5 separate regions of the Homo sapiens genome follow, and regions 1, 2, 3 and 4 are each linked to region 5. The links come from fine-mapping of genetic effects on gene expression. A gene starts in region 5. Each other region holds a variant in brackets. All regions are shown on one strand. Distances are from middle to middle. Region 1 overlaps TARID (TCF21 antisense RNA inducing promoter demethylation). Region 2 overlaps VNN2 (vanin 2). Region 3 has its middle 20 kb from the start of VNN1. Region 4 overlaps VNN2 (vanin 2). Region 5 holds the start of VNN1 (vanin 1).

Region 1 (4,123 bases), 850 kb after region 5:
GGGACCCTAAGCCAGCGGCGCTAGAGGAATTAAAGACCCACACACAGAAATATAGAGGTGTGAGGTGGGAAATCAGGGGTCTCACAGCCTTCAAAGCTGAGAGCCCCGAACAGAGATTTACTCACGTATTTATTAACAGCAAGCCAGTCATTAGCATTGTTTCTACAGATATTAGATTAACTAAAAGTATCCCTTATGGGAAACAAAGGGATTGGCCGAAATAGAGGGATGGGTTGGGCTAGTTATCTGCAGCAGGAGCATGTCCTTAAGGCACAGATCACTCATGCTGTTGTTTGTGGTTTAAGAATGCCTTTAAGCGGTTTTCCTCCCTGGGCGGGCCAGGTGTTCCTTGCCCTCATTCCAGTAAACCCACAACATTCCAGCATGGGCATTATGGCCATCATGTCACAGTGCTGCAGAGATTTTGTTTATGGCCAGTTTTGGGGCCAGTTCATGGCCAGATTTTGGGGGGCCTGTTCCCAACAGTATATTGCTGGCCTTGCCAGCTGAAGGCAAATTGCTTCTGGTGGGCCTTATGGTCAGAAATGGAGAAAATGCCATTTGCCAAATCAATGGCTGCATACCAGGTAACAGGAGATGTGTTAATTTGCTCAAGCAATGAAACCACATCTGGTACAGCAGCTGCAACTGGAGTCACCACTTGGTTAAGCTTATAATAATCCACTGTCATTCTCCAAGATTGATCTGTCTTCTGCACAGGCCAAATGGGAGAGTTGAATGGAGATGTGGTGGGAATCACCACCTCTGCGTCTTTCAAGTCCTTGATGGTGGCACTGATCTCCACAGTCCCTCCAGGGATGTGATATTGTTTTTGATTTACTATTCTTCTAGGTACAGGCAGCTCTAATGGCTTCCATTTGGCCTTTCCCACCACAATAGCCCTCACCCTACCAGTCAGAGAGCCAATGTGGGGATTCTGCCAGCAGCTAAGTATGTCTATGCCAATCATGCATTCTGGCCCTAGGGAAATGACCACAGGATGAGTCCAGGGACCCACTGAAGCCATTGTAAGTCAGACTTGAGATAAAACTCCATTAATTACCTGTCCTCTATAAGCCTCTACTTTAACTGGATACCATAATGATGTTTTGGGTCCCCTGGAATCAATGTTAGCTCAGTGCCAGTGTCCAGTAGTCCCCAAAATGTTTGATCATTTCCCTTTTCCCAGTGCACAGATGCCCTGGGAAAGAGCCAAAGGTCTCCTTGGGAATGGATGGGAGAAAGATTCACTGCATAAATTGTCAGTAATATAGTGGGTTCCTTCTTCAAGGGGACTCAGCCTCCCCTTCATTCAAGGGGCTCTGGGTCTGTAAACTGGCTCAAGTCTGGAAATTGATTAAGGGGCCATGATGACCTGTTTTTATAATTCAAATTAGTCTTTTGTCTATGCGACCTAGAAGTTTTCTGCTTATATAAATTAAGTAGGAATGCAGTAAACTTCCTATTAATTTCACTTATAGTAACACCATGATTAATTTGTCAATGCCAGAGCTCTACACGAGTCAGATTATTCTGATTGCTGCTTTGCCTCTGCAGTCCATGATGGTAGCTATGCCCACCTTGCCTTTGATGGTTGAGTTCCACCAGTTGGCCCCTGCCACCTCATGATCCAATTATTCCTATTGTATTTAAATTTTGTAGTTGAGTGACTGTGGTTCTCACAGTTAGATCTGACATACAGAGCAGAGCACCCACAAAGCTCTTCAAAGATGCAGGCACTGCCCTCACAAATCTATTTCACAGGGCATTGGTCAAGAGTATATCTTCTGCACCCTCCCAGCTGGGATAAGTAGGTCTAAAGTGACTAATCCACTCCACCATCCCGATCTCCTTAAGTGTTTGGATCCCTTTCTCTACATTAAACCAAGGGAGATCAGGCATTTCCAGCTGGGTCACAGTGGGCCATCTTTTAATCCATATTGCAGCTAACAAAGCAAATAAACTATTAGAACCTTTCTGTAACTCCCCAAGCTGCAACATTAAATGCAGAATCCATACTTATTGGGCCCAAATCAATAAATTCAGCCTGATCCAACTCTTATGTTCCTTCTATCCTTATCCCACACCCTTAATATCCATTCCCATGCCTGTTCTCCAAATTTCTGCTCATATAAATTAGAAAACTCAAGCAATTCTTTTTGAGTGTAGCACACCTCCTCATGGGTCACACTTTGAACCTTACCTCTAGGGTCCCACCAGGACTTTAGTCTAGAAGGAAACAGGAGTGTTTGTGGTGGCTCCTGAGGAGAATCAACATCATCTTGCCTGACAACTGCCTCAGGGGAGGCCATCACTCTTGCCTCAAGCAGCACAGGGTTTATCTCCTTAGACAAAGGTGGAAAGGCTGATGGCAGCATGGATCAGGGAGGGGATGTTGCCACTACTTGGGATAGGGAAGCTGTTTCTTCTGGCAAAAAAGGTTCATCAGAGTTTACAAACTCAGTGTCCCCAGCTTCATCAGGGTCCTCCCACACGTCCCTATTCCAAG[T/C]TACAGGGTCCCATTCCTTTCCAATCAGTGCCCTCACTTTAACAGTGGACACCTGGCAAGGCTGTGCATGCATCTTTTGTTGCAGGTCAGCCACTCACATAAGAGTCTGTGTCTGTTTTTCCCCAATTTCAGCTCTTTCTCTACAGGAGCTAAGACTCTCACTTAGGGCAATCTTAGCAGATTTGAGGCTCAATATCTGCTTCTGAAGCAGAATCCCTGAGTTCATCATTTTCTTTCATCACTTTGTCCACTGAACTTAGGAGCAACCAATCAACTTCATTATGTTCCTTGGTTCTCCACATATGGTCAAAGGTATTATGTATAGAGTCATTAAACTCCTTGCCTCTCATGAGTGGTGAATCAGGAGTATTAAATGCATTTACTTTGCATAACTGTCTAAACAGTTTCCGCCAAGCACTATCAGTGTTTTCATACTATTAGAAGTAGAGTCCTTAGCATTTTTTGGTCTAATCATATTAAGCAGCCAACTCCAGAAACCCCAAAACCAGTGAAATAACCCCATTCTTAATATTCTGTTCCTCTAGAAACACTCCTGATACCAAAATGTATATTGGTCAGGGCGTCGGGGCTCTATAGAGGGACAGAACTAATTATATATATATGTGTATATATATGTGTGTGTGTGTGTGTGTGTGTATATATATATGTCCCTCTATAGAGGGACAGAACTAATTTTTATATATATATATATATAGGTGTATATATATATATATATAGGTGTGTGTATATATATAGGTGTGTGTATATATATAGGTATATATATACATATATGTATATGTATATGTATATGTAAAGGAGAGTTTATTAAGAATTAACTCACACAATCACAAGGTTCCACAACAGGCCATCTGCAAGCTGAGGAGCAAGGAGAGTCAGTCTGAGTCCCAAACTGAAGAACATGGAGTCCAATCTTCGAGGGCAGGAAGCATCTAGCTTGGGAGAAAGATGTAGGCTTGGAAGCGAAACCAGTCTAGTCTTTTCATGTTTTTCTGCCTGCTTTATATTCTGGCCACTTTGGCAGCTGATTAGATGGTGGCCACCCAGATGAAGGGTGGGTCTGCCTTTCCCAGCCCACTGACTCAAATGATAATCTCCTTTGACAATACCCTCACAGACACACCCAGGATCAATATTTTGCATCCTTCAATCTAATCAAGTTGACACTCAGTATTAACCATTGCAGTCAGTATCTTTTCTTATACTGGTTGGCCATTTATATATCTTCTTAGACAAATGTCTATTTAAGTTCTTTGCCCATATTTTAACTGAGTTATATTTGTTGTTGTTACTGTGGAATTTCCTCACATATTCTGAATAATAATCTCTTATCAGATATATGATTTGAAAATATATTCTTCCATTCCAAGGGTTGTTTTTCACTCTGATGAGTGTTTTCTTTGTTGTGCAGAAGTTTTAAGTTTCATGTAGTCCCATTTGTCTATTTTTAGTTCTGTTGCCTGTGCTTTTGATGTCATATTCAAGAAATCATTGTCAAATACAATGTCCTTAAGCTTTTCTTTTATGTTTTCTTCTAGGAGTTTTATAGTTTTAGGTCTTGGTTTTAGGCCATTAATCTATTTAACCCATTGTGAA
Region 2 (4,123 bases), 38 kb after region 5:
AGGCTGAGGCATGAGAATCGCTTGAACCTGGGAGGCAGAGGTTGTAGTGAGCCGAGATCATGCTACTGCACTCTAGCCAGGGTGACAGAGTGAAATTGTCTCAAAAAAAAAAAAAAGAAAAAGAAAAGAAAAGAAAAAGAAAGCTATACAAAACCCGGGACATCTGATTAGAAGAGAAACTAAAATAAAAGTAGTATCTCTATTTACTGTTAGTTTTGCAAGTGAAAATAAGACTGTTTATAATTTAGATATGTTGGCAAACCCACTTAAGGAAGTCTTCTTGATGTTCTCCACAGTAGGCTGGTTTATTAGTCAAATCGAAACTCATCATGGTTAGGTTAATAATTTTTTAAATATGCTTAAAGCAAGCAATAAGATTATACTTAATTCCCATTGTAAATATTTTATCCCAGTGTATGTACGTGCATAAATGCACGTGTGTGTGTGTGTGTTGTGTGTGTGTGTGTTGCCATCAATGCATGGAGTCAAGCCAAGGAAAAGCACCTGGTTTTCTGGAACAAATATAAAAAGTTAACCTGGAATTTACCTTTCACTTGAATGCCCTTTCATTTGAACTGAAATTACCTGCCAGTACTCTCTTCTCCTTCGGCCATGTAATCCTGTAAAAGCTCCTAGAACGTATACTTCATTCTCTTCTTTTTGTAACATTCTGTAGCTTAAATGACAGCAAAGCTCCTTTTGACAGACTGTAAGGTTTCCTGCATTTTCAAAAAGTTCTGTGAAGTTGAACCCATCCCTGGAAATAAATCCCCTGAAAGTGTTTTTCTGTACTGGAAATGGTTTGATGGTGGTGGCGTAGGCATTCCAATTAACAGCTGTTGGGTAGGCAAGCGAGGATAGGGGATGTGAATCCACCTCTGAAAGGAGAAGTTTTCCCAACTCTGTCTTCATGTCATAATGATACACTTTGGGACCATTTGGTGCATAAATACCACTTCCTGTGAATGAAAGACAAGTCTTCTAAAAACAACACCACACACAAAAAAACCAAAACTGCCAATTTCCCCATCAGAATTGGGCATGTGATCACGCCACCATATTAGTCACGATGAGAGAGGATACATGCTTCTAATTGCACTGAACACCTAACTACTTCTATTCTCTAATGGAAGAGATTAAAATAAACATTCCTTGGTCTCATTTCAATTAAACCTTAAATATAATAGCATTATTTATTAGCATTATGGAAAATTAAACCAACTACAAAAATCTTTGTAGTCAGGAGTTCCTGAAAGGTGGGGAAAGGGAATAAAAATTCTCCCCTATTCCTCATTGTGGTGGTTTTCAAATATATCCAAAAATTCCTTAAAATTCTTCTTTCTGGTGGGAGGATCTAATTCCTTTCCCCTTGAAGAGGGGCTGGACTTAGTGACTCACTTCCAATGAATAGAACATGGCAGAAGTGATGGTGGGTAACTAGTCATAAATAGCAATGTGGCTTCTTTCCTTTTCTCTCTTGTCCCCTCTCATTAATTGCTCTAGAGGAAGACAGCAGCCATGTCACGAGGATATGCCATGCAGCCATAGGAGGAGACAAAGGGCAAGATATAGAGGCTTCCATGGCCACTGAGGAAAGTAGTAGCTGGGTAGCATTTGGCAAATTACTTGCACTCTCTGTATGTCAATTTTCTCATCTGCAAAATTGGGATGACACTATCTATCTCATATAATTATTGTAATAATTAAATGAATAATACACATAAAG[G/A]TCTTAGTATAACCATAGCTTATAATCAAGTGCTAGCTTTTTTTTTCTATTGTGAAACTATGACAAACACAGTAAGAATTTCCAATAAGCAAAAAATTAATACAAGTCATAACTGAGGCATTCATTTCTCTGCACTTAAAAATATAAGATGAAACCTAACCTGGTCATGAATTACCTGTCATATTTAGGCTGACATGATGTGTGTTGGCCACAAGAAGATTAACTCCCATTCCCATTGCCCAAGCTGAATGGAATTCAATAGCTGTCAAAAGGGGCAAAACGTTCATCCAAGCTGTGGGAAACAGTATGGTGTCCACATGGAAATCTTTCACCAGGGTAACACCAGGATCATAGAAGAATATATCAAAGCACGTGAAAATGCCAAACCTTCCAAATGCGGTGTTGAAAGTCACCAACTCCGGCTTTTCAGGGACATTAAACTGAGGCTCAGAGTACAGGTGGTACTACAACAAATGGATAGGAGAAAACCAGTAAAACCTTATTTGTTGAAGAAATGACTCATAAAAACCCTCTAAGTTGGTAACAGATTTGGCTATGGTCAACTGCAGGGAATCTCCTAGGAAGCGGATAAATCTGGCAATTGGAAGTAAATTTCTAAGGAAAATGTGGAGGAATATGTAACATACGTCCATAGCATCTCTCATCTCCTCTCTCTCCCTTCTCTCTCTTTCCCTCTCTCTCAGTTAAGAGCCAAATACCCCCCCATAAACCCCAAAGTCCGTAAGCTTTTTTTAAATTTAATTTAATTTTATTTTTCTGAGACGGAGCCTCGCTCTATCACCCAGGCTGGAGTGCAGTGGCATGATTTCGGCTCACTGCAATCTCCACCTCCTGAGTTCAAGCGAGTAGCTGGGATTACAGGCACGTGCCACTATGCCCGGCTAATTTTTTCGTATTTTTAGTAGAGTCGGGGTTTCACCGTGTCAGCCAGGATGATCTCAATCTCCTGACCTCATGATCCACCCACCTGGGCCTCCCAAAGTGCTGGGATTACAGGAATGAACCACAGCACCTGGCCCTATAAGCTTCTTAAAAGTTAAAAAACATGCATTATTCTTCTTTGAATCCTTGGTGCCTAGAAACGTAATATTAATAGATGCATAATAAATACCTGTAAGTCAGGTGAGAGATGTCATCTCTCTCTTTAGTGTCCCATCCAAAGTAATCTCAGTGACTCTTGCCCACCTTTCAAAATTACCATAGAAATGTATTTAATTTCCCGATTCCTTCTAGGTAAACTAAAAAAAAACTTAGTCTAATATAATAAATGGAATCAACAGTTAATAAAATGGTCTGCAGTGTAGAAAAAATATCTAAAAAATAGAAAAGAAATTGGGCTTTACTACTATTTTAAGAATTGACAGGCCAGGCAAGGTGGCTCATGCCTGTAATCCAAGCACTTTGGGAGGCCAAGGCAGGCAGATAACTTGAGGCCAGGAGCTCAAGACCAGCCTGGCCAACATGGAGAAACCCCATCTCTACTAAAAAATCCAAAAATTAGCCGGGTGTGGTGGTATGCACCTGTAATCCCAGCTACTCAGGAGGCTGAGGCAGGAGAATGGGTTGAACCTGGGAGTCAGAGGTTGCAGTGAGCTGAGATCGTGCCATTGCACTCCAGCCGGGATGACAGAGCCAGACTCTGCCTAAAAAAAAAAAAAAAAAAAAAAAAAAAGGAATTGATCGACAAAGGTATTCTCATTAGGTTCACATATGTCAGAGGTCATGGGTTACAAACGGTCCCTGAGGTACCCTCAGGGAAGAGTGAGAGCCTTTCAACTTAGACAGGGTGACTGCAGGTTCCTTGCTAGTTTGTCCACATTCAGTGCACTGTGCCATCCTGCATATTTACAGAATGGCAGAATAGCTTCAAATGATTACTGCAAATAAACTGCATTGAAAGATAATACAAATAATGCAAACAATCTCCCAAGCAAGAAAATGGAAGCACTGACCTTTCTATTTTTACTATGAGACACATTTTAAGAAGAAAGTGAAATGCAGTGATATATATGAAAAGAAGCTGTCAAAATCCACAAAATTATGAAGAAAGCATTTTGAAATTGTTGCACTTTATAAATACACACACAAAAATACATATATTGAGGACTTATGTTAACGATTTTTTCCAATAGGGGTCCATGATCGAAATCATTTGAAAACCATTGGTTTAACATCCCTCCTCTTAATTAATATTTATATTTTAACTGAGACTGCCAGGAGATAATTTCTCCACTCCAAAGATTCTGAGGCTACAGTTTAAGATGCTTACAAAATATCTGGGTGTGGAGAAGGGACATTCATACTGCCTGTACATCACACATATCCATTTAAAAGGCCAGGCTTCTTTCTCTACCTAGTTTAGTATAAAATTATGAC
Region 3 (4,123 bases), 20 kb after region 5:
TGAGCCACCACACCCGGCCTATACCTACTATTTTTTTAAGACAAGGTCTTACTGTCACCCAGGCTGGAGTGCAGTGGTGCAATCATAGCTCACTGCAGCCTCAAACTCCTGGGCCCCAGTGATCCTCCTGCTTCAGCCTCTCGAGTAGCTGGGATTATAGGTGTGAGCCACCACACCTGGCTAAATTTTTTATTTGCCGAAATAGGGTCTGGCTTTGCTGCGCAGGCTGGTCTCAAACTTCTGGCTTCAAGCAGTCCTCCTGCTTTGGCTTCCCACAGTGATGGGATTACAAGTGTGAGCCACCACGCCTGGTCACACCTACTATTGTTGAAAGACAATTGCAACAAATAACCAACTAGTCATCAGTATCTCAAGTCATTTACCAAACAGGAGATATGCCAGATGATATACACTATGAAACATAAGCAGTATCTGCAGATTCAACACTATTTCTTTTCTTCTTTTTTTTTTTTTTTTTTTTTTGAGACAGAGTCTCACTCTATCGTTCAAGCAATTCTCATGCCTTAGCCTCCCGAGTAGCTGGGATTACAGGCACACACCACCACACCCAGCTAATTTTTGTATTTTAGTAGAGATGGGGTTTTACCACGTTGGCCAGGCTGGTCTCAAACTCCTAATCTCAAGTAATCCACCTGCCTTGGCCTCCCAAAGTGCTGGGATTATAGGCATGACCCACAGCACCCAGCCTCAACACTATTTCTAACATACTACCAATGTCATTTTTTCACAGATTTATAAACAAAATTTCTAAAATTCATATGGAACCAAAAAAGAGCCTGAATCGCCAAACCAATCCTAAACAAAAAGAACAAAGCCTGAGGCATCACATTACCCAAGGCTACAGTAATCAAAACAACATGGTACTGTTAGAAAAACAGACACATAGACCAATAGAACAGAATAGAGAGCCTAGAAACAAAGCCGCACACCTACAGCCATCTGTAGCTCAAACAAAGTTCACAAAAATAAGTATGGGGAAAGGACTCCTTATTCAACAAAAGGTGCTGGAATATCTGGCTAGCCATATGCAGAAGATTGAAACTGGACCCCTATCTTTCACCATGTACAAAAATTAACTCAAGATGTATTAAAGATTTAAATGTATGACCTCAAACTATAAGAATCCTAGAAGAAAATCTAAGAAACACCATTCTGGACATGAACCTTGGAAAATAATTTATGACTAAGTCCTCAAAAGCAATTGCAACAAAAACAAAACTTGACATGTAGGACCTAATTTAACTAAAGAGCTCTGTACAGCAAAAGCAACTATCAACAGAGTAAATAGACAACCTACAGAATGGGAGAAAATATTTGCAAACTAGGCATCTAACAAAGGTCTACTATCCAGAATCCATAAGGAACTTAAATCAATAAGCAAAAACAAAACAAATAACCCCATTGAAAAGTGGGCAAAAGACATGAACAGACACTTCTCAAAAGAGGACATACAAGTGGCCAAAAAACACGTGAACAAACACTCAACATCACTTATCATCAGAGAAATGCCAAGCAAAACCACAATGAGATATCATCTCACACCAGTCAGAATGACTGTTAACAAAAAGTCAAATAATAAAAGATGCTATGGAGAAAGGGGAACACTTACACACTATTGGTGGAAATGTAAATTAGTTCAGCCATTGTGGAAAGCAGTTTGGAGATTTCTCAGAGAACTTAAAACACAGCAACCATTCGACTCACAATCCCATTACTAGGTATATACCCAAAGGAAAGGAAATCATTCTACCAAAAAGACTCGTGCACTTGTATGTTCATCGCAGCACTTTTCACAACAGCAAAGATATGGAATTAACCTAGGTGCCCACAAGAAGGAACAAAATCATGTCTTTTGCAGCACCAAAGGACATTATCCTCAGCAAGTTAACACAGGAACAGAAAACCAAATACTGCATGTTCTCACTTATAAGTGGGAGCTAAGCATTGGGAACTCATGGCCATAAAGATGACAGCAATAGACACTGGGAACTAATAGAGGGGAGAGAGAGAGAGGAAGGCAAGGGCTGAAAACCTTCCTGTTGTATACTATGCTGGGTGGTGCAATCATTGTACCCCAATCCTCAGCGTCATGCAATTTGCCCATGTAACAAACCTGCACATGTACTCCCTCAATCTAAGCTAAAAGTTGAAATTACAGGGAAAAAAAAGCATCTACATCCTATGCCACAGATTGACTATTTATCAACACAATTACCAGTCAAATTCAGTGAGTTTACTGTTGGTGTTTTACCAAATCACAACTTTTTGTTTAGAAATTAATGATATGATATTACCTCCAGGGGTCTCTACATGGAATCCAGTTCACTCCAGGGTCTGGTATATCCTCTAGATAGGGGTAAATGCTCTCCCTGGTGAAGATCCAACCATAGATTCCATCTTCTGGGGTCACAATGATATGTGCACCCTGCTCGAAACAAGTGGGGCAAAAAAGTTTGTCATGAATTCCAAATACTCTTTGACCAAACTGCAAGTCTCCTTTACAAGTATAAAAGG[G/C]TAATACCTGCTTCGCTGCCAGCTTAACTGCTTTCTCCAAAACATCTATGTTCTTGTTCATCAGGAGCAAAGCTTCTTCTTTTGAAACAGGTGTTTCTGTTCTGTTTGGTAATATCACCGCATGCTCATATACTGCAGCAATAAAAGTGTCCAGTGCACCAACACTCAGAGCAAGGAGGGCAAAAACTGCCACACATTTTGGAAAATGTGATATAATCATAACTAAAATTTAGTGATCTTTGAAAAACAAACTCAGATTCTTACGTTTTGTTTCACTGGAAAAACTTTACATTAAATCCCTCCTGGCAATCAGCTGTTTATATTTTCTTGCACATATATTACACAACACAGCATTGAGAAAGGATGTTGTGCAAGAAAACTGACAGCCAGGACGTAATTGGATTGATTCAAGTGTACAGTGCAGTTGTTGACATTGTTCAGAGTCAAGTCAACACTAAAAGATTGAGCCAACCAGATGAATTCACCCCAGTCCAAAACACACTGGCAGTTGAAGTCTTTTCTAATAAAAAAAAATTTTCCTGGTAAGCCAACATTTCTATTAATAGGGCCAATATTGGAAGGTAGTCATCATAGCAACAATTTGTTGAGCACTCTACTTACATATTTGTATGGCCATTTCTATTTGAAAAGCCCTTGTTCTCCATCCGTCTAAGTTCCAGCTCCCCCTAGAGTCCTCCCAAATCCACTCCAGTCCTAAGTGATATTTCTGAACTCCTATAGCATTTTTTTCTGTGCTGCTGAATGTCTCTCACTCCTTGCTGTTGTCTTGACCTTTAATTTAAATATTATACCAATACTTAATATTATATATGTATGTTTTGTCTTCTTAAAGAGATTAAAAAGAAACTTGCTGTTTTCTTTCAGAACATCCATGTCCAATAAACATCTAGACAGAGATGATGTATCCTGGGATGTGGCCCCTGGAGGGTAAGGGAAGTGTCCTGCTCACTGTTGAACCTCATCACCCCAGCACATGTGTGACAGATGGTGAAAGCTCAATATATGAATGAATGTTGAATGACGGAATCTACTACCTGATGGGCCAGTCTATTCCACCTTTGAACATTGCCAATTTTAAGAACATTCTTGTTATTGAGATGCAATTTACTTTACCTGTCTTCTACAGTTTAAACCCGCTTCCATATGAAGACTAATCAATAATTCAAAAAGTGTTAAGTTCTCCTTTAATTCTTTTATTTTTTAAACATATCATCCTTATAAGTCCCTTAAGGGCAGGGTCACATTATAATTCTCTGCTGCTTCTATAGAATTTTATACTGTGCTAAGCTCTGTAAATGTTTTTTGATTAGTTAAATTCACTTCCCTCGCCCAATTTTGGATTGAATCTCCTTGTTTGAATATCAGTTAATTTAAAATGTAGAATTTTTTTTAAGGTTTAAATCTCTGATTCTAGAACAATTAACACTGCTTCTCCCTCTTGAGATTCTTTCTAAGATCTAAGGAAAATTGTAAGTTATGGAGATTTGTGTCTATTTTGGGTTTGGTTTGTTTCTATAATTCAAAGTCCCTTGGTTTCAATAAACTTTTCCATTATCCAAATATTTCT
Region 4 (4,123 bases), 30 kb after region 5:
TGGCGTGAACCTGGGAGGCGGAGCTTGAAGTGAGCCGAGATCGCACCACTGCACTCCGGCCTGGGCAACAGAGCGAGACTCTATCTCAAAAAATAAATAAATAAATAAGTAAAAATAAAATAAAATGGGATGAAAGATAGTTATCAAAGAAATATAAAGGCCAAATGAAACTATGCTTGGGTTGTTTGATAAAATAAAATGTATGTGAGAAACCACGGTGGAGATGGGTTAAAATGTGGTGCAGGCAATTTTACAGTAGAGCATTAAGTGCTCTTTAATTTCCTTGGCACTTGGTGCTTTCGTTTTTTGTTTTTATTTTTAACAAACTGAGGTACAGCTGAGAGCTCCAAGCTTGAATCAGAACTGTCCCTTTCTGTGAAAGGAGCTCCTTGCTTGTATCTTACTCAAACCAGTTTGTTTAACGTCAGCTGTTGATTTTCAATCAACATCTAAACTTCTGCAAATGAAACGTCATTGCCCAAGAGCCAAAATACATGCTGCAAAACCACTGCACAACATCTAACTTCCTCAAGCAAAACTTGGCAAATTTTAAATGTCCCATACTTTATGAAAAGGAAAAAGAAGCCAGGCATGGTGGCTCATGCCTGTAATCCCAGCACATCGGGAGGCCAAAGTGGGTGGATCACCTGGTCAGGAGTTCGAGACCAGCCTGGCCAACATGGCGAAACTCCATCTCTACTAAAAATACAAAAATTAGCCGGGCATGGTGGTGGGTGCCTGTAATTCCAGCTACTTGGGAGGTTGAGGCAGGAGAAGCACTTGAACCCAGGAGGCGGAGGTTGCAATGAGCTGAACTCCCACCATTGCACTCCAGCTTGGGTGACAGAGTGAGACTCTGTCTCAAAAAAAAAAAAAGAAAAAGAAAAAGAAAAAAGAGCATAAAACTTTGATGATTATATGATTTGGACTATATACACAAATGCACGTTCATTACAGCTTTAAAATTGCCATCTTTGATGTCCCAATGCTGAACATAGGGAATATGTATGCTCTTCTCAAAATTAAATACAAAGTGTGGCTTAACTTCCATATTTCTTCTCTTAATACTAACCACGAGATTATAAAAGGAATCTTACTTTTCTAGTGTATTTTAGTAGAATTTTAAAATCAAATCCATAAGTAGGTTTATGACAATATGTAAAAACAAAAGATAAATGCTTCAATTGTGTTTTTTTATGTAAAAGTATTGAATTTAAAAATACTTTGGGAGATAAAAATCAGAAAATAAATCTGAAAATTCAAAATCAGTTCTTTAATTTTAAGAGTATCTGAATTAAATGATCAATAACAAATATACTAGTTTACTTCAAGTAGCATGGAATATGTGTATTTTGTAAAAAGTCAACCAAATGCTGAAAATAGTGTAACTTTTAACTGTCATGGTCTTTGTGTTATGAGATTTCTGCCTGTTAAATTACGCCATAGCCTTAAGGTGGGACAGCTGGGGCTATGAGTGCCCTGGGTCAGGTCTCCTTTGATATGAACTTGGAATAGCCATCAATTCTTCTAGCACTCAAAACTACGTTCACTGTAGAAATAAATGTCGACATTGCCTTTTGATTGGAAAGTAAATCTCCTGATAAACATTAGCACAGAAAACTAGGTGAATTCAAATAGTCTTTAATGTCAAAGGGAATTCAGTCA[T/C]AAACCTCTAAATTCCCATCATTACTATTCTCTTCAAGGGCACAGCTATGTTTGCAATGGCCCTGAAACTCCTCACTCCCATACATACAAGTCCCCCATACACACAAAGTCTCAAGCAAATGAGGCTGGAGCTGGAGTTTGATCTTCATTTATCTGACCCAAACACCCAGGCTCTTTCCATTGTTCCACACTGCAACATTTCAGAGTAGCCAAAAAAATGGACAACATTATCATAATACTTAAAAAATAATTATTGATGAGAAAAAATATTTAGGACTCACTGGTCTATACTACTGAAATAGCCCTTCAAAGTTTCTTAGTAAACTTGGGAAGCCGATAAACACATTCAGCCAAGCATATGATGCAGAAGCTGAGTGATAAAGAGACGCCCTATAACATTACAATATTTTGCAAAGCTATGATCATTAATAATATGAATATTAGCAGGTAAGTTATTGCTGAATTGCTGGTCCCACATGAGCTGTAAAGTGAGTCCTTTGTGTACCACCTCCCAAAGAGTGACACTGTTAGTATAGGCCCAGATGATCCATTCTTGTTTACCAAACGCCCATCTTTCAGCACCTAAAGAAAAGGTGGGAAAAGTACAGTCAGCTTTCTTAACATAGAAGTTAAAAGCAAATTAATCATTTTGAAACCATCCTAGATATAATGTATAGTCAAATCATTTCTGATTTAGGAGGATGCAGCAAGTAGGCCAGGCAGGGGACAGCCATTTACTACATAATGAAGACTAGAGCAATTCAAGAGGGCCCAAGATTTTAGTTTCAACAATCAAATGTAACCATTAATGGAAAGTCAAAATCAGCAGCAGCAATTCATTGAGTTCGATTATGTGCAAGACAATCAGGAACCAGAGAGTTATACATCACATCCTTCCCTCAAGAAGCTAAAGAGCTAATGGTGAAATGGAGCGGATTCTAAACATAAAGAGAGAAATCAGTTTATCAGTGTATCAGAGAAGAGAACAGGTAAGTGCTAGGAGGTCTGAGAAAAAAAAAACTGAACTGGTCTGTTTCACGGAGTGGGACACAAGCTGCCAAAAACTCAAGCTGTTAGGAATTTCTTTCAAGGGCTGTATGGTGGAAGACATTGTGGGAAGTGGACATTGAACCAGCAAAGGCTCATTCTGAGACAGAAGTGTGTGTGACAGATCAAGGCAATGTGAGTTCTCATTCTAGATTGGTTAAAACCAGTGGTGTGCTGGAGCTAGTGGTGCACAGGCTCATGAGAACAGATTGTTAAATTTCCAGGAAATTGGACAGCTGGCTGTTAAACACAGCCATTCTTTTTTTCCCCCTTTTTTGAGATGGAGTCTCGCTCTGTCACCCAGGCTGGAGTGCAGTGGCATGATCTTGGCTCACTGCAACCTCCGCCTGCTGGGTTCAAGTGATTCTCCTGCCTCAAGCTCCCCAGTAGCTGGGATTACAGGGGCGTGCCACCAAGCCCAGCTAATTTTTGTATTTTTAGTAGAGACAGGGCTTCACCATGTTGCCCAGGCTGTTCTCGAACTCCTGGCCTCAAATGGTCCTCCCAACTCAGCCTCCCAAAGTGCTGGGATTACAGGCGTGAGCTATCAAACTCTGCCAACAGATCCATTCTTGAAGCTGGTGGGATCATGGCGGGAATATTGACACAATGAAAACTGGCAAATTCCATAAGTCAGGGCTTTTTGTTTTCTACCTCAGAGAAGGAATTGTTTAAAGTTACATCACACCACTGGCTAGCGCTGAAGATTAGTGAAGAAGAGAAGAAGGAATATGATCAGAGGAAGGTGGAGATCAGACTGTGAAAGGCATTAATGACTAGATCTAGCCTGAAGCCACAGTGGAGTTTTCATAAGAGAGGAATATGTACAAAGCAATTGAACAAGAACAGAAGGAAACATGCATAGACAGTCAATAAACAGAACAAGAATAAAAGAAAATGAACCCATTAGTTGTGGAAATGGAGTTGGAATGGAGAAGAAATTGAAAATTGGGAAATTAGTTGGAGTGGAGAAGAAATTGAAAATTAGGAAAACAGATGCTTTACAACTGGGAGGAGAAAATGACTAAATATCCTAGAAGATAATGATTGTACTTCACCATTCACAAAGTGTCTTCACATGCATTATCATATTTGATCCTCACCAAATCAGTGAGGAAAATATTCTCTTCTATGAGTAGGAAATTCAGAGGTTAAGTGACTTTCCCAAGGTTATCTAACTAGTTAGTTACAGAGAACAGACTCTGCCAGTGCTTCTGACAATACACCAGAGTTGCCTAAGGTGCTAAAGCAAGATGTTTCCACATTTGTGGGCATGGTGAGTAACACCACCCTTTTAACATAAAACTAAAGTGGTGGTGGGGGTTGAGGATACACAACAAGTGTGTTGAAATCTCTGCAATAGTGATCCTCTAAGATAACGTGTAAATATCTATGGAGAGAGTGTGCATCC
Region 5 (4,123 bases):
TCTCCCGCCTCAGCCTCATAAGTAGCTAGGATCACAGGCATCTGCCACCACGCCTGGCTAATTTTTGTATTTTTAGTAGAGATGGGGTTTCTCCATATTGGTCAGGATGGTCTTGAACTCCCAACCTCAGGTGATCCGCCTGCTTCAGCCTCCCAAAGTGTTGGAATTACAGACATGAGCCACCGCACCTGGCTTAGTCAAGCATTTTAATTTTCTAATCCTGCCATTGTTGTTTCCTATGGCAGTCGTTAACTATAAACCTAGCTTATCCTGGAACCAAGCCTCTCCTTGAACTTTCGCTGATGACTGTGCCTGTGTCAAGACTGATTAATAACTTAAATATTCTGTTTATTTCCTCCTCTGCCCTAGCTTTCCCCTGCAAACATGATTCCTGCTTCTCAGAAAAAGAGGAGCCACAAACTGGTTACTTGAACTGTCCCATGCCTACAAGTACTGCCTGAGCTAACCTGGGCACCTTCCAATTAGAGAGTCACCTTAAAAAGCTCTGTGACCTTCAAGGAAATAGTTGGACTAAGGATGAAAAAGAACATCAGAACTCCTGATAACCTTTTAAATATTAGTATATATAAGAATATAGGGCAGTCACGGTAGCTCATGCCTGTAATCCCAGCACTTTGGGAGCCCAAGGCAGGTGGATCACCTGAGGTCAGGAGTTCAAGTACAGCGTGGGCAACATGGCAAAATCCCATCTCTACAAAAAATACAAAACTTAGCTGGGCACGGTGGCATGCATCTGTGGTCCCAGCTACTCTGGAGACTGTAGTGGGAGAATCACCTGAGCCCGGGAAGTCAAGGCTGCAGTGAGACGTGATCACACCACTATACTCCATCCTGGGTGACAGAGTGAGACCTTAACTCAACAACACAAAAGAATATATATTTATAGATATATGTAATACACATTTATCCATGACTTTTATCACACTTCATGTATTCCTGGTCTACACCTAATCGATCAATAGCTTTTAAAATAATATTTGTGTAAACCACAATTTATACTGTATGATTAACTTCAAACTGAAACCTTCACTAAACTTAAGGACTCACAATGCATTACATATACTTTTATCTTGTAATTAGAATGAAGTGTGAAGTATATAATGCATGCTGGCAAGGAATTGAAAACTTAAATTTGTTTTCAGATTATAAATTTATTCGAAAACCTGCAAAGCCTTAATAGCACATGAGTACATGAAGGCCACTAATACTCTGAAAATAGCACCTAGTCCCTGACCCATTTATCCTCCATCCTCCATCTGTACCAGAAAAGGGGAACAAAGATGTTGAATTTATGGCCAGTTCCTCAAAGGTCTGCTGCTTCTTGATAATGAGCAAATTGTTCTTTTCTTAACTTTGTTCTTACTTTTAGGGAAGTCCTTGCTCTAATTTTGAGAGGAAAGTAGAATTCTAACTGTAAAATAAAGGTTCTTGGCTACTCTGATACATATATCATCTAAAAGTGTAACTGACCCTGACAGTGGCCCTGTCTCCTAGGACCCCCTCCTTTCTCATAGAATCCAGTACACTGGAGAGATGGTAGAGATGGTACCTGATCTGCTGCTGATGTGATCGCTCCTTCCAAAATGTCCAGATTCCGATTCATTAATGCCAAAGCCTCCTCACGAGACACTGGTGTTAGGGTGGCATTGGGCAATATCGCTGCATGCTCATAAACAGCTGCAGTGAAAGTGTCCTGGCAGCTGGCTCTTGAGACATAGAAAAGCAAAATTGCCACGTAAGCTGGCAACTGAGTAGTCATGCTGAAGTCCAATGAGTGCTGAAAAACAGAGCATGTCCTGGTATTTATAGAAAGAAGACACGTGGTGTCCAGAACTTAGTACCTTAAACTACGGAAGTTAATTAAGAAAACGCTATGATTTCATAGCATTGTTACATAACAAAAGACCCTACCTTATTGCAGTAATTTGTGAAGATTAACTCAAGAACTCTATGTACATTAGTTCGCTAGGGCTGCCTAACAAAATACAATAAACTGGGTGGTGTAAAAAATAAAAAATTTATTGCTTTGCAGTTCTGGAGGGTGGGAGTCCCAGATGAAGGTGTCAGCAGAGTTGGTTCCTCCTGAGGGCGGTGAAGGAAAGATGTGTTCCAGGCCTCTCTCCTTGACCCATAGATGGCTGCCTTCTCCCTGTGTCTCTTCATATGCTATTCTCCCCATGTGTGTGCCTGTATCCAAGTTTTCCCTTTTTGTGAGGACACCACTCTAATCTTTAACACAGGGAAAGGGAAAATCCCAGCTCTAGCTTTTTTTGTCATCGTTGTTGTTTGTTTATTGTTGTTGTTGTTTGAGATGGAGTTTCACTCTTGTCACCCAGGCTAGAGTGCAGTGGCGAAATCTCGGCTCACTGCAACCTCCGCCTCTCGGGTTCATGTGATTCTCCTGCCTCAGCCTCCCAAGTAGCTGGGATTACAGGCGCCCGCCACCACGCCAGGCTAATTTTTTGTATTTTTAGTAGAGATAGGGTTTCGCCGTGTTGGGCAGGCTGGTCTCAAATTGCTGACCTCAGGTGATCCACCTGCTTTGTTTTTATGCCAAATAAGGGCAGAAGAAAAAAGCCAACTGAAGGTCATAAACCCAGGGGTACAGGCTCACTGAAAGACTGAGACTCAATCATAGGACCAATTCGATTTAGTGCCCACTGTACTCCAGTATAACTTCATCTTAACTAATTAGATCTGAAATGACCCCTTTTCCAAAAAAGTTACATTCTAAGATACTGACAGTTAGGACTTCAACATATAAATTTTTGGAATTCATATATTTTGGAATGTCAACACAAGACATTCAAATAATTTTAAAACTTTATTATTATTTTCATGTGAATATTTCAGCTCTACACTTTGATTTACTTTATTTTCCTCAAAATGGGGAAGCCAGGACAAAGAGGAATACAAAAGAGTTACTCATTTTCTATTGCTATATAACAAATTATCCCCAAATTCAGCAGCTTCAAAAAGCAAAAATACATCATCTCCCACTTTCTCTGGGTCAGGAATCCAGGGGCAGTTTAGCTGGTGCCTCTGGCCCAAGGTCTCTTTCACAAGGCTGCAGTCAAGCAGCTGCCAGGGCTAGCTATATCAAGGCTTGACTCCAGGAGGATTCACTTCCGAGCTCCAAGCTCCCTCATGTGGCTGACGGCAGGGATCAAGACCTCATTGGTTGTTGCCCAGAGACATGAGTTCCTAGTGATGCAAACCTCACCATAGGGCAGCCCGCATTATGGTATCTGGATTCCCTTAGAGCCAGACAGCAAGTGAACCCACTGGAGATGGAAGCCACGGATGCTTCGTAATGTAATTGGGGAAGCAACACCTCATCGCTTTTGTTGTATTCTATCCAATAAAGCATTAGGAACCATCTTTGAAGCTGCTTATCACAGAGGCAACAGAGGTGTATAAAGAATCAGAGCAAAAAAAAGAAAAAATGAGCTGGGGAGCGAGATCCAGAGAGAGGAGAGGGAAATTATATAAAATAGAAAAACTGTTCATAGATTTTGATATTGAGTAAGCTGGCAAATTTTGTTTCAGTTGTGCATTAAGTATAATATTTACAGAATTAGTGTTTATGTTTTTCCATTTTATTTTTAGATCTATTTGTCTTTGAATGGTATTTTTATAGTTCAATCTGCAAACAGGCATATCTAATTTTTTACTTTAGTAACTATAATGCATTTATTCTGCAATTGCCAAGGTAACCCAGGGGTTGTGGTTGGCTGGTTCTCCTGAGTTTCCGGTAAACACCAGCTTCTCTAACTGCTTGCTGACCTCTTAGGGCCTTTCCATGCCCAGGTGGGTGGGAATACCACATATTTCACAAAAAGATGTCATTATTATGTAACAATTTGTAAAAGGAAGCACTGAAATAAAAGTTAAAACTGAGATGAGTTGGCAAGAGGTTAAAAAATTACTTCTTGACCTTCTTAGATTAAAAATATTAAACCTCCCGTGGAGTTTCTAGTCCAACTCATAAAGAGCTTGGCAGTCATTTTTCCCATGCTCACACCAAGAAAAAAGCTAAACAAATGAAAATCGACAACTTTTCTAGGATGCATCAGAGAATTGAGATCACAGGATAAACTGC

The links. PIP is the estimated chance that this variant, and not a neighbour inherited with it, causes the effect.
Region 1: its variant is fine-mapped to the expression of VNN1 in monocytes after R848 (Quach 2016, PIP 0.95).
Region 2: its variant is fine-mapped to the expression of VNN1 in blood mononuclear cells (TOPMed, PIP above 0.99).
Region 3: its variant is fine-mapped to the expression of VNN1 in whole blood (INTERVAL, PIP above 0.99).
Region 4: its variant is fine-mapped to the expression of VNN1 in whole blood (TOPMed, PIP above 0.99).

What each region holds. Positions count from the first base shown.
Region 1 is chr6:133,558,436-133,562,558 of GRCh38, forward strand. The region is part of intron 5 of TARID (TCF21 antisense RNA inducing promoter demethylation); the gene reads right to left. Among named protein-coding and RNA genes, the nearest start is that of EYA4-AS2, 100 kb to the left of the region's middle. The variant T/C (reference allele first, on the strand shown) is at 2,510.
Region 2 is chr6:132,750,560-132,754,682 of GRCh38, forward strand. It overlaps VNN2 (vanin 2), which reads right to left. Exons shown (of 7, transcript NM_004665.6): 4 at 1,902-2,190; 5 at 586-959. Among named protein-coding and RNA genes, the nearest start is that of VNN2, 5.3 kb to the right of the region's middle. The variant G/A (reference allele first, on the strand shown) is at 1,727.
Region 3 is chr6:132,731,938-132,736,060 of GRCh38, forward strand. It overlaps the pseudogene VNN3P. Among named protein-coding and RNA genes, the nearest start is that of VNN1, 20 kb to the left of the region's middle. The variant G/C (reference allele first, on the strand shown) is at 2,536.
Region 4 is chr6:132,742,245-132,746,367 of GRCh38, forward strand. It overlaps VNN2 (vanin 2), which reads right to left. Exons shown (of 7, transcript NM_004665.6): 7 at 1,626-2,247. The coding sequence ends at 2,056. Among named protein-coding and RNA genes, the nearest start is that of VNN2, 14 kb to the right of the region's middle. The variant T/C (reference allele first, on the strand shown) is at 1,666.
Region 5 is chr6:132,712,256-132,716,378 of GRCh38, forward strand. VNN1 (vanin 1) reads right to left here and starts at 1,800. Exons shown (of 7, transcript NM_004666.3): 1 at 1,571-1,800. The coding sequence starts at 1,780.